Linked DNA regions of Homo sapiens. The protein of the gene in region 2 purifies or fractionates together with the protein of the main gene of each other region. This does not show direct contact. Each region holds a gene or a part of one and is shown on either strand. Other genes may lie near its edges.

The links.
Region 1: the proteins of ALDH18A1 (region 2) and BZW1 fractionate together in Homo sapiens (co-fractionation; one large-scale study listed by BioGRID). This does not show direct contact.
Region 3: the proteins of ALDH18A1 (region 2) and QPRT fractionate together in Homo sapiens (co-fractionation; one large-scale study listed by BioGRID). This does not show direct contact.

The regions. Positions count from the first base shown.
Region 1 is NC_000002.12:200,818,287-200,821,938, reverse strand, and holds part of BZW1 (eIF5-mimic protein 2), read right to left. Parts: coding exon 3,546-3,652; intron 3,185-3,545; coding exon 3,038-3,184; intron 1,958-3,037; coding exon 1,819-1,957; intron 757-1,818; coding exon 634-756; intron 1-633. UniProt on the Homo sapiens protein: Translation initiation regulator which represses repeat-associated non-AUG (RAN) initiated translation probably by acting as a competitive inhibitor of eukaryotic translation initiation factor 5 (EIF5) function.
Region 2 is NC_000010.11:95,632,678-95,636,329, forward strand, and holds part of ALDH18A1 (delta-1-pyrroline-5-carboxylate synthase), read right to left. Parts: intron 973-3,652; coding exon 814-972; intron 373-813; coding exon 282-372; intron 1-281. UniProt on the Homo sapiens protein: Bifunctional enzyme that converts glutamate to glutamate 5-semialdehyde, an intermediate in the biosynthesis of proline, ornithine and arginine.
Region 3 is NC_000016.10:29,689,116-29,692,767, reverse strand, and holds part of QPRT (nicotinate-nucleotide pyrophosphorylase [carboxylating]), read right to left. Parts: intron 1-3,652. UniProt on the Homo sapiens protein: Involved in the catabolism of quinolinic acid (QA).

The DNA.
Region 1 (3,652 bases), on a different chromosome or scaffold from region 2:
CACCACCAAAACTGGCTAATTTTTTATTTTTAGTAGAGACTGGGTTTCCCATGTTGTCCAGGCTGGCCTCATACTCCTGGCCTCAAATGACCTGATCGCCTCAGCCTCCCAAAGTGCTAGGATTACAGGCGTGAGCCACCACACCCAGCCTCCATGTAACTTTGAAGCTGTTAACGAATTTTATTAATAACCTATTTACATGAGGCAGATATTCAAAAGCATTCACTTGGAAATCCCAACATTTGGCTGGGTGCAATCACATCTGCAATCCCTGTACTTTGTGAGGCTGAGGCAGGAAGGTTGTTTGAGCCCAGGAGTTCAAGACCAGCATCGGCAACATAGTGAGACTCTGTCTCTATATTTTTAATTAAAAAAAAAAAGAAAAGAAATCCACAAATTTATAAACATTAAATATTCTCAAAATTTTCCATTTCATGAAGAACATTTACTATTATGGCTGAGCCATAAATATACTATAATAATTAAACTCTAGCTTTCGCCACCTGCCTTATAACAAAAATCTCTACTCCAGGTACAAAATGGCATCAGAAAGAAGGAAGCATGTGTGAAGATATATTATGGCCACATTAAAATTAGCTTTACCAAACAAACCACACAAAGGAAAATCCTTACCTTCTTCAGCATTTTTGAGCCATTCTACAAACTTTTTCATTTGCTCAAGGAAAACACTCTTCCCCTTTGCAACATGTGCATCTTTATACCACTTCAAAATGGGCTCCTCGCTCAGGACTTCAGCTGGAAAGAAAACTCATTGCATTAAGGGAGTTTTAATATACTCTACTCAGCGTTAGAACCACCACCTAATGTGCAAATGCCTGCTTAGCAAACAAACTGCTGAAAAGCTAAAAACATCCATGAGAAATGGAAGATAATAATACATGTGCGCATACCAACTACACTCAACGGGATCAAGACTGGTCTGATTAGTGCAGAATTTCAAAGTGTTATGACCAACTGCAATGGATTTTCTCCCAACAGAGGTCTTGTCTTTACTAGCCACTTTAGACCAGGTTTCTAAAATTGGGATCAGGAGAAAAGGGAACAATATAACTGAAATTGGGGTTGCTATAGAAGCACTCTGAACTGGTCTTGAAGGACTACGGAAAGTCAACACTGGGTGGGGGAGTAAGATGAACAGAAGCAGGATTCACACAGGCTGAAGACTCCAGAGCTATGACTACATAGCTAAGACTACAGACTGTCTGGAAAAGGGACTTGGGGATTTTTTTTTTTTGAAACAGGGTCTCACTTGTTGCCTAGGCTGCTGGAGTGCAGTGGCACAATCATGGTTCACTGCAGCCTTGACCTCCTAGGCTCAAGTGATCCTCCTACCTCAGCCTTCTGAGTTGCTGGGACTACAGGCTTGCGCCACCATTCCCTGCCTAATTTTTTATTTTTTTTGTAGAGATGAGGTCTCCTTATGCAGTCCAGGCCGGTCTTGAACTCTTGGGCTCAAGCGATCCTCCAGCCTCAGGCTCCCAAAGTGTTGGGGTCACAAGTATGAGCCACCACACCTAGCTGAACTTTGGGAATGTATACCTGGTTAAGAGTATAGGAGGCAAGTTTGAGGACGCATAATGATGGCTTTAGATTTCATACTTCAACTTGTGAATAGGGTTTAGATGTTTTAAACAAGTATCAGTGCACTAAAAAGCACCCAATTTAATCAGAGGTGACTCATAACTAGAAGTAAAATATTTCAGGGAGCTGATGTCCAGATAACTCATCATTTGGATAATTTTGTGTTTATAAGGGTTTTTATTAAGTGTTATTTACAAAATTCAAAATCTAAATTACCTTTATAAAAAAGCACCACTATTTTCTGGAAGGCTTTCATGAAATGAATGTTGTCATAGCAATACTCCTGAATCTTCAGTAACAGAGTCAGCTCAGACTGACCTTGAGTAGTAAAGGCAGCAAGTAGAGGGCTGTATTGCTTTTAAAGGAACAGAGAAAAGATTTAGTCATTCATTACAAATAACCATCCATTACAAAACTCCTACAATACAGACAATATAGAACTTAACTCATCTTTTATAATCACTGCAAACTATAACTTATTTACCAGAAATTTAAAAAATAGGCTGGGCACAGTGGCTCACGTCTGTAATCCCAGCACTTTGGGAGGCCGAGGCGGGTGGATCACTTGAGGTCAGGAGTTCGAGACCAGCCTGGCCAATATGGTAAAAGCTCGTCTCTACTAAAAATACAAAAATTAGCCAGGCACTACTTGGGAGGCCGAGGAGGCAGAACTGCTTGAACCCAGGAGATGGAGGCTGCAGTGAGCTGAGATCACATCACTGCACTCCAGCCTGGGTGACAGAGTGAGACTGTCTCAAGAGAAAAAAAAAAAAGCAGAAAATCTAAGTAGCTAAGTAAAATAAACAATACTATACCAAGTAGTCCAAGTAAATGTCAAACAATATTAGTATTTTAGAGGGGGGGAAAAATTCCTATTTTCCAATACCCCCTTCAAAAGCAAACATCTAATTACAAGCTGAAGTTCCTTTTCATCATGTTCTTTTTTTTGAGGCAGGATCTCACCCTGTCACCCAGGCTTTGTCTGACAAAGCCATCATAAGCTCACTGCAGTCTTGATCTCCAGGGCTCAAGAGATCCTCTGCCTCAGCCTCCTGAGTAGTTGGGACTACAGGCATGCGCCACCACGACTGGCTATTTTTTGTGATTTTTAGTAGAGATGAGGTCTCACTATGTTGCCCAGGCACGTCTTAAACTGAGCTCAAGCAATCCTCCTGCCCTTGCCTCCCAAAGTGCTGGGTTTACAGGCGTGAGCCATTGTGCCTGGCCAGGCCATATTCTTGTTTTTAACCTGTGAACCACAGCCCAATTCAGAGCATTATCATCAATAGCTAATGTTACTATTTGTTTATTTACTGGTGGGCCATCCCTAGGAACCACAGGATGTGATAAATCCTCTTAGAAAAATATAGTCACAGTTCACTTATCACCACGTGAAAGCAGAATAGTTTGTTTTGTCAAGGCATAGTTCTAATACCTTCAAGTGCTTGATGGCTTGCTCTGCTACAAGCTCCTCTTTTTTGTTCCATTCCACAGTGCTCATTACACTTGACCAGACTATTCCGATGACAACTGGCTCTGGGATGTTGTTTTTTTTCATCTCCTCCTTGACATATAAAATTATCTGCAAATGAATCCAAATTTAGTAACAGAAGTCAGTTTTGATTATGTACATACTTCACACATCAAGTTTAGACCTTTAACAAAAACTAACAACTCCTTTTCCATGCAACTGGCAACCACATGTGTACCACATATAAAAAGAGACCTTTACAACTGAAAGGTGCCCTGAGCTCCAGTCTCTTGTATTTCTGGGCCTCAGTCAGGCACTGAAGAAGCATATGCAAAAGAATGAGGCAAAGTTCCAGTATAACATCCTGTTACTATTAACTCAATCTCATCCTGGTGAAGTAAGTTCCTCAAATTAGTGAAAATCTCTATGCCAGAAGCTTAGCCATAAAAAGACGGTTTAAACAAAAACTTACATCCTTAAATGGATCACCACGGGACATCTGTTCTTGAAGTTCTTTCTGGAGCTCCTTACGAGCTCCGATGGTTTGCTGATTCCGAACATATTCTGAAAGCTCTTTCA
Region 2 (3,652 bases):
CAAATAAGTGAATTGTATGGTATGTGAATTACATCTCCATAAAGCTGTTATTTAAGGAAAACAACTGAAAGCACCTGGAAGTAACATTTCAGGATTCAAATGACATCTCTTAGACTCACCCACCCTGTTTTGAGTCATAAAAGCCCTTTGTCAGAACATATGGCTAATGATCTATAGCAAAAAAACATCAGAGGGACTCAAAGAAAGAGGGAAACTCATGTGCTCACATATGTAGCATTTAAAACAAAGGGCAGATAAAGGAAAAAAGCATTACTTTGTACCTTCTACATCTGAAAGAACAATCAAGAGATCAGTTTTCATTTCCACAGCCAGTCGGGCAGCCAGGCTATCATTATCTTTAACACTAATAACCTAGAATGCAGATTAAAAAGTCATAAGTGAGTGAGCTAAGCAGTCCAAAAAGAAATTCATGGAAGAACACAGCCAAGCTCAGGCAAAACCAAGCTAGGATCAGGCAAAACCAATGAACCCAAATATGTAGATGACGGCTCTTGCAGGCCCCTTCTGTCTGCAGAACACACTGTCTACTGGCAATCCTTTTTCCAAACATGCAGTCTTCTAGCCACTGAAATATACAAGCCATGCTCATCGCACCATCTTCAGTGACTATAGCACCTCACCCTGTTGAATGCAACCACGAGTTCAGAAGAGCTTATGCAGTCACTGCTCCATGACAAGTTTCTCTCACAACTTTTCCATCTTGTTTATGCCAAACTTCTGGTGTTAGTGCATGCAGCATAGCATGGTGTTAGTGTCTCCAGCATGCTAAACCCTTAGAAATACTTTACCCACATTTACCCCCTGCAGGTCACTGTTGGGCTCAGCTGGGGGGACAACAGCATCATTTGTGTTGACAATGGGGACAATGTTCATTCTAAGGAGTTCATGAAGTGTTCCATTGAGGTTCCGGCGCTTCTGCTCATCATGGAAATCCAAATTGGTCACCAAAATCTAAAAGGATTAAATAGATGGAAAATGCATGAGGGAGAAAAACGCTAAACTTCCCAGTATACAAAAGACGCTAAGAGCAGGGGAGTTAAACTTTAGGTTTCTGGGGCCCCACACAGATTAGAAGATTAGAATGAAATACACATATCTGGGTGCTATCCAATTCTTTTTTTTTTTTTTTTTTTTTTGAGACAGGGTCTCATTCTGTCGCTCAGGCCGTAATGCAGTGGCATAATGTCTGCTCACTGCAACCTCCACCTCCTGGGTTCAAGCAGTTCTCATGCCTCAGCTTTCCAAGTAGCTAGGATTACAGGCACACGCAGCTAATTTTTGTATTTTTAGTAGAGACAGGGTTTCGCCATGTTGGCCAGGCTGGTCTCAAACTCCTGGCCTCAAGTGATGGGATTACAGGTGTGATCCACTGCACCTGGCCCCAATTTTTGTAGAGATAAAAAAAATTACAATAATCTGAAAGATTTATTTAAGAATGTTCAAGACTTCTTGCAAAAGTACTTTAATCCTCAAAGAGCTACCAAATTCCAAAATCTCATCCATTTACAAAATTAAGAAAATTAATGTATCTATTTTAGAGGGATACTGGGGGAATCAGTGATTATCCATTAATTTCTTTTCTTTTTTTATAGAGAGGGTCTTACTCTGTTGTCCACGCTGGACTTGAACTCCTACTCTCAAGTGATCCTCCCACCTCAGCCTCCTGAGTAACTGGGACTAAAGATGCACACCGCTGTGCCCCAGCAATTTCTAAAATATCTCTGTATTCTAGGATCTGATTCAGGGCCTGGCCATAGTAGGCCCTTAAATATTTGGTGAGTGAGTGAAAGTGTATTAGACAAAATGGAATAGGGCTGTGTTGTCACTGCTCTTGCTCTAAAGCAGACTATTACTGGAGTTAACTAAGATTGTGTGTGAGCATGTGGGGTTAGTCTGAGAAATTTATGGAAGTTAGTCTTTGGTCACAAGCTGAAAGGGGGGCAGAACACAACTTGGTTCAAGGGAGGAGATGAGCATAAGGTGCTCAAAGGTAGAATGGAGAGCTGGTGTGTGGGCTGGTAAACAGCTCTGCTTTCTAGCTTAAATCAGAATTTTATGCAATGTTTAGGAGAAAAAGATAAATGGGTGAATGGAGATAGCAAGAAACTAAATGGCAACAAACCTTGAGGCTCAACAATAAATAATGCAATCTCTCTAATGTTTACGGAAGAGCGTTCTTGCTGTGTAGGGCAGGATGAGGTAGGGAAAGCTGGAAGCAAATAGTAAAGAAAGCAGGCACTGAAACAGTCAAAGTGAGGATGGTTAAGGGTCTGGCTATGGTAACTGAGAAGAATATAGCAATAAAACAGTAGCCTTAATGGTATATAAAACACAGGAAACATACATATAGAAAAATAATTCACTCACTCGATAAAAAATTTGTTGAGTACCTCTGAAATGCCAGAGTCTAGCTGCTGGAATGGAGAATAAGAATGTTGATGTCTTGGGGAAAAATAAAATGGAGCATATTTTTGAAAGGGAAGATCATGAACTCCTTTTCAGAAAAGCTTAGTGCTGTTGGACACAGGACTAGGTCCAAACTGAACATATAGATTCTAGTCACGATGGTGAAAGATCAAACAATTAATATAAACCCGTGTGTAGGAGAGACAAGCAGGAGATCTAAAGGTCCAGGAAAAATACCTGTCACCAAAATAGCTTCACAAACATGGCCTGGGGATCTCAGCATGAAGGTAGGAGATAAAGAGTCCCAAGAGGGAAAAGTACGTGTTTAGACAAGCGCAATCTGTTGAGGGAAAATCAGTTTCCCTTCTATGAAGAAAAAACAAGCTGTTTTAAGTGTTTAAGTCTTTAACCTGGCAAACCACCTACTGGAAATTTTCAAAAGCCACTGACAATGGTCTTCTATATAGGATTACTGAAGAAAATAAGGAACCACAGGAAAAGGTACAAAGGGCAAATATTTTCTGTAGATATGATGGCCTTGGGGGAAGACACAGGTGTGAGAGGAAAGAGCCCAGGGGTTGAAGCTTGTTGGGAACTGGAGGGGGCAGGGCTCTTCTTTCACTCAATGTAAATGGAAACAATGGCTGATGCTGCATGGACTCTTAATGCTACCATCATTCAAAACAAAATAAAACAAAAACAAACTCTCAAAAGGTTTCATCCCTGGGAAAAACCAAACCAAAGCAAAACCATAGCTCCCTGACTTGAGCTTCCTCACCTGGCTCCAGGCACTTTAAAAAAATTAAAGACCAAAGTTGTCATTGGACTGTGAAGAGAAACCAAATAATAAAGAAGAGTGATATAAATAGAGATTTATACTGTATTTATACTAACAGAAAAAAAGCTAAGACTACAGAAAGTGGGGTCCCCAGCCATAGGCAATGGGACAAGTCCGTGCCTTTCTGTTTTACCTCACTGACTTGAGGACACTCTGGTGTAATACCAGAACATCACTGTGGGTACAAACAGGCAAATGATGGAGAAACAAAAAAAAGTAACAGGAAATGAAGAAGCAAAACCTGAAACAATATATGTATATATAACAATATCACCTGTGTAAAATAACATCTGTGCATGTAGTGTACATGTAAAATAATATCCATAATATAAAATAACAGCTATTTTACATCTTTACAGGTAAAGGAATTTCAAAATAAAATAATTT
Region 3 (3,652 bases), on a different chromosome or scaffold from region 2:
TATTTATTTGTTTTTTTGAGACGGAGTCTCGCTCTGTCGCCACTGTGGCGCCTGCAGTGGCCTGGCGACTGCAGAGGCGCGATCTCGGCGTCAGCCACCGCATCTAGCCCATGATGTGATTATTATGCATTGCATGCCTTTATCAATGTGCACCCCATAAATATATACACCTACTATATACCCACACTTTTTTTTTTTTTTTGGAGATAGTCTCGTTCTGTTGCAGTGGCGCGATCTCGGCTCACGGCAAGCTCCGCCTCCCGGGTTCACGCCATTCTCCTGCCCCAGCCTCCCGAGTAGCTGGGACTACAGGCGCCCACCACCACGCCTGGCTAATTTTTTTGTGTTTTTAGTAGAGACGGGGTTTCACCGTGTTAGCTGGGATGGTCTCAATCTCCTGACTTCGTGATCCGCCCGCCTCGGCCTCCCAAAGTGCTGGGATTACAGGCGTGAGCCACCGCGCCCGGCCAGTACCCACACTTAAAAAATAAATAAATAAATAAATAAATAAATAAATAAGGATAGTGGACATGGTGAAGGCCCCTCGCGCGGTAGGCATAGCCCGTGATGGGCCCTGCATGGCTGCGGGCAGAGGCAAACCCAGGCGCGGTGCAACAGCGCCATCTATCGGCAGGGAGAAGACCTGCAGCCTAATGGACCCCCGCCATCCGTGGAGTTGGCTTCCCCTTGAGGGGAACACAGAGCCAGCGAGGGTGTTTGATTTAGCGCGCACACACGTGCACGCACACGCACAAGCACGCGCACACAGCACACTTCTGTTCCAAGTGGAAGTGAAGGCCAGACATCCTGGCTTGCTCCGCTCTCCAAAGAGGGCCCTCTCTTGTCTACTTCCCCAAAGCCAAGCTGCTGAGTCTCCACTCACTCACCCCACCTCCCCTCCGAGCCACAAGCCTCCTTGACTGCACCCGGCTCTCCTTCGCCACATTCTCTCCCACATCTGCCCCAGATGGCTCCTGTCCCTCCACTAAGAGCTAGCTATACTGAGGCTGGGCACTGTCTCTGTTGGTCACATCCAGCTACGGAAAAGGCCTGGGAGCAAACGGCAGGGAGGAGAGCCTAATCCCCCACTCCCACTCCATTCAAACTAGGTGCAGTGCAGTGGCACGATCATGGCTCACTGCAGCCTCAACTGCCCAGGCTTAAGCAATCCTCTCGCCTCAGCTTCCCAAGGAACTGGGACTACAGGCGCACACCAACCATGCCCGGCTAATTTTTGTATATTTTTTGTTGTAGAGATGGGGGTCTCACTATATTCCCCAGCCTCGTCTTGAACTCCCAGGCTTAAGCAATCCTCGCACCTCAGCCTCTCAAAGTCCTGGGATTACAGGAGTGAGCCACTGTGCCCACCCTGATTTTTTTTTTTTTTTTTTTTTTTTTTTTTTGATGCAGAGCTTCACTCTTTTGCCCAGGCTGGAGTGAAGTGGCCTGATGTCACCTCACTGCAACCTCCGTCCCGCGGGTTCCAGGGATTCTTCTGCCTCAGCCTCCCAAGTAGCTGGGATTACAGGTGCCCGCCACCACGCCCAGCTAATTTTTGTATTTTTAGTAGAGACAGGGTTTTGCCATTTTGGCCAGGCTGCTCTCAAACTCCTGACCTCAGGTGATCCTCCCGCCTTGGCCTCCCAAAGTGCTGGGATTACAGGCGTGAGCCACCGTGCCTGGCCAGACTGATTTTTTTCTTTTTTTTTCAGGCTGATTTTTTAAAAAATGGATTTGAATTCTGCAACTGGTGAGTATTGGGTAAACAACCTGTGATGCAGGCTGGGCACCATGGCTCACGCCGTAATTCCAGCACTTTGGGAGGCCAAGGTGGGCAGATCACGAGGTCAGGAGTTCAAGACCAGCCTCTCCAACATGGTGAAATCCCATCTCTACGAAAAAATACAAAAACTAGCCGGGCGTGGTGGCATGTGCCTGTAATCCCAGCTACTTGGGAGGCTGAGGCAGGATAATCACTTGAACCAGGGAGGCGGAGTTTGCAGTGAGCTGAGGTCATGCCGCTGCACTCCAGCCTGGACCACAGACTGAGAATCCATCTCAAAAAAAGAAGAAACCAACTACTGATACACACAACAATAGGGACCTGTCTCAAATGTATCAGTCTAACTAAAAGGAGCCAGATCCAAAAGGCCGTATGATCCCATTCCCGCAGCATCCTGGGAAAGGCAAAACTATAGGCACAGAGCAAATCAGCATTGCCTGGGGAGTGGGAGGAGTTGACCACCGAGATCTGGCGAGGTTGCAAAGAAAAAGGATCACTTATACACTGTTGGTGGGAGTGTAAATTAGTTAAACCATCGTGGAGGACAGTGCAGCAATTTCTCAAAGACCAAAAACCAGAAATACCATTCCACCCAGCAATCCCATTACTGGGTATATACCCAAAGGAATGTAAACCATTCTGTTATAAAGACACATCACAGCACTATTCACCATAGGAAAGACATGATTCAACCTAAATGCCCATCAATGCTAGACTGGACAAAGAAAGTGTGGTACACATACACCGTGGAATACTATGCAGCCACAAAAAAGAATGAGATTACGTTCTTTGCAGGGACATGGATGGCGCTGGAGGCCATTATCCTTAGCAAACAAACGCAGGAACAGAAAACCAAATACCGCGTGTTCTCACTTATAAGTGGGAGCTAAATGATGAGAACACATGGACACATAGAGGGGAATAACACATACTGGAGCCTATTGGAGGGCGGAAGTTTGGAGGAGGGCAAGTGTAGCAAGACGAGCTGTGGACAAAACCCCTCAGACACCAAGATAGTGAAGGGAGTGGCTTTAATCAGCTGGGAGCATTGGCAGGCTAGCGTCTTAAAATCCGAGCTCTTCAGGTGCTCAACTTCTGTCCTTTTTAACGGCTCACAACTCTAAGGGGGTCCGCGTGAGAGGGTCGTGATTGAGCAAGCCAGGGGGTACGTGACAGGGGCTGCGAGCACCGGTGGTCAGAGTGAAACAGAACCTAACGGGAGGTTTCACAATGTCCTTCCATACAATGTCTGGAATCTATAGATAACAACAGTTGCTAGGTCAGGGGTCGAATTTTAACTACCAGGCTTAGGTCAGGCACGCCCAGGCCTGATTTCGGGTCTGGTTCCTTGGTTTCCGGTCTGGTTCCTAGGCACCAGGCTACCTGCCTTTAGTTTCGCTTCTCTTTCCTTTTCTGAGTATGAAACAATATGAGAGGGTCTCTCTCTTCCCTCAAGAGGATCAGGAAAAATAACTAATGGGTACTAAACTTAATACCTGGGTGACTAAATAATGTGTACAACCCCCATGACACAAGTTTACCTATATAATAAACCTGCACATGTACCCCTGAACTTAAGATAAAAGTTAAGGCCGGGCATGGTGGCTCATGCCCGTAATCCCAGCACTTTGGGAGGCCAAGGTGGGTTGATCACCTGAGGTCAGGAGTTCAAGACCAGCCTGTCCAACATGGCAAAACCTCATCTCTACTAAAAACACAAAAATTAACCAGCTGTGGTGGCAGGCGCCTGTAATCCCAGCTACTTGGGAGGCTGAGGCAGGAGAATCTCTTGAACCCAGGAGGCAGAGGTTGCAATGAGCTGAGATTGCGCCATTGCAATCCATCCTGGGTGACAGAGTGCAATTCGGT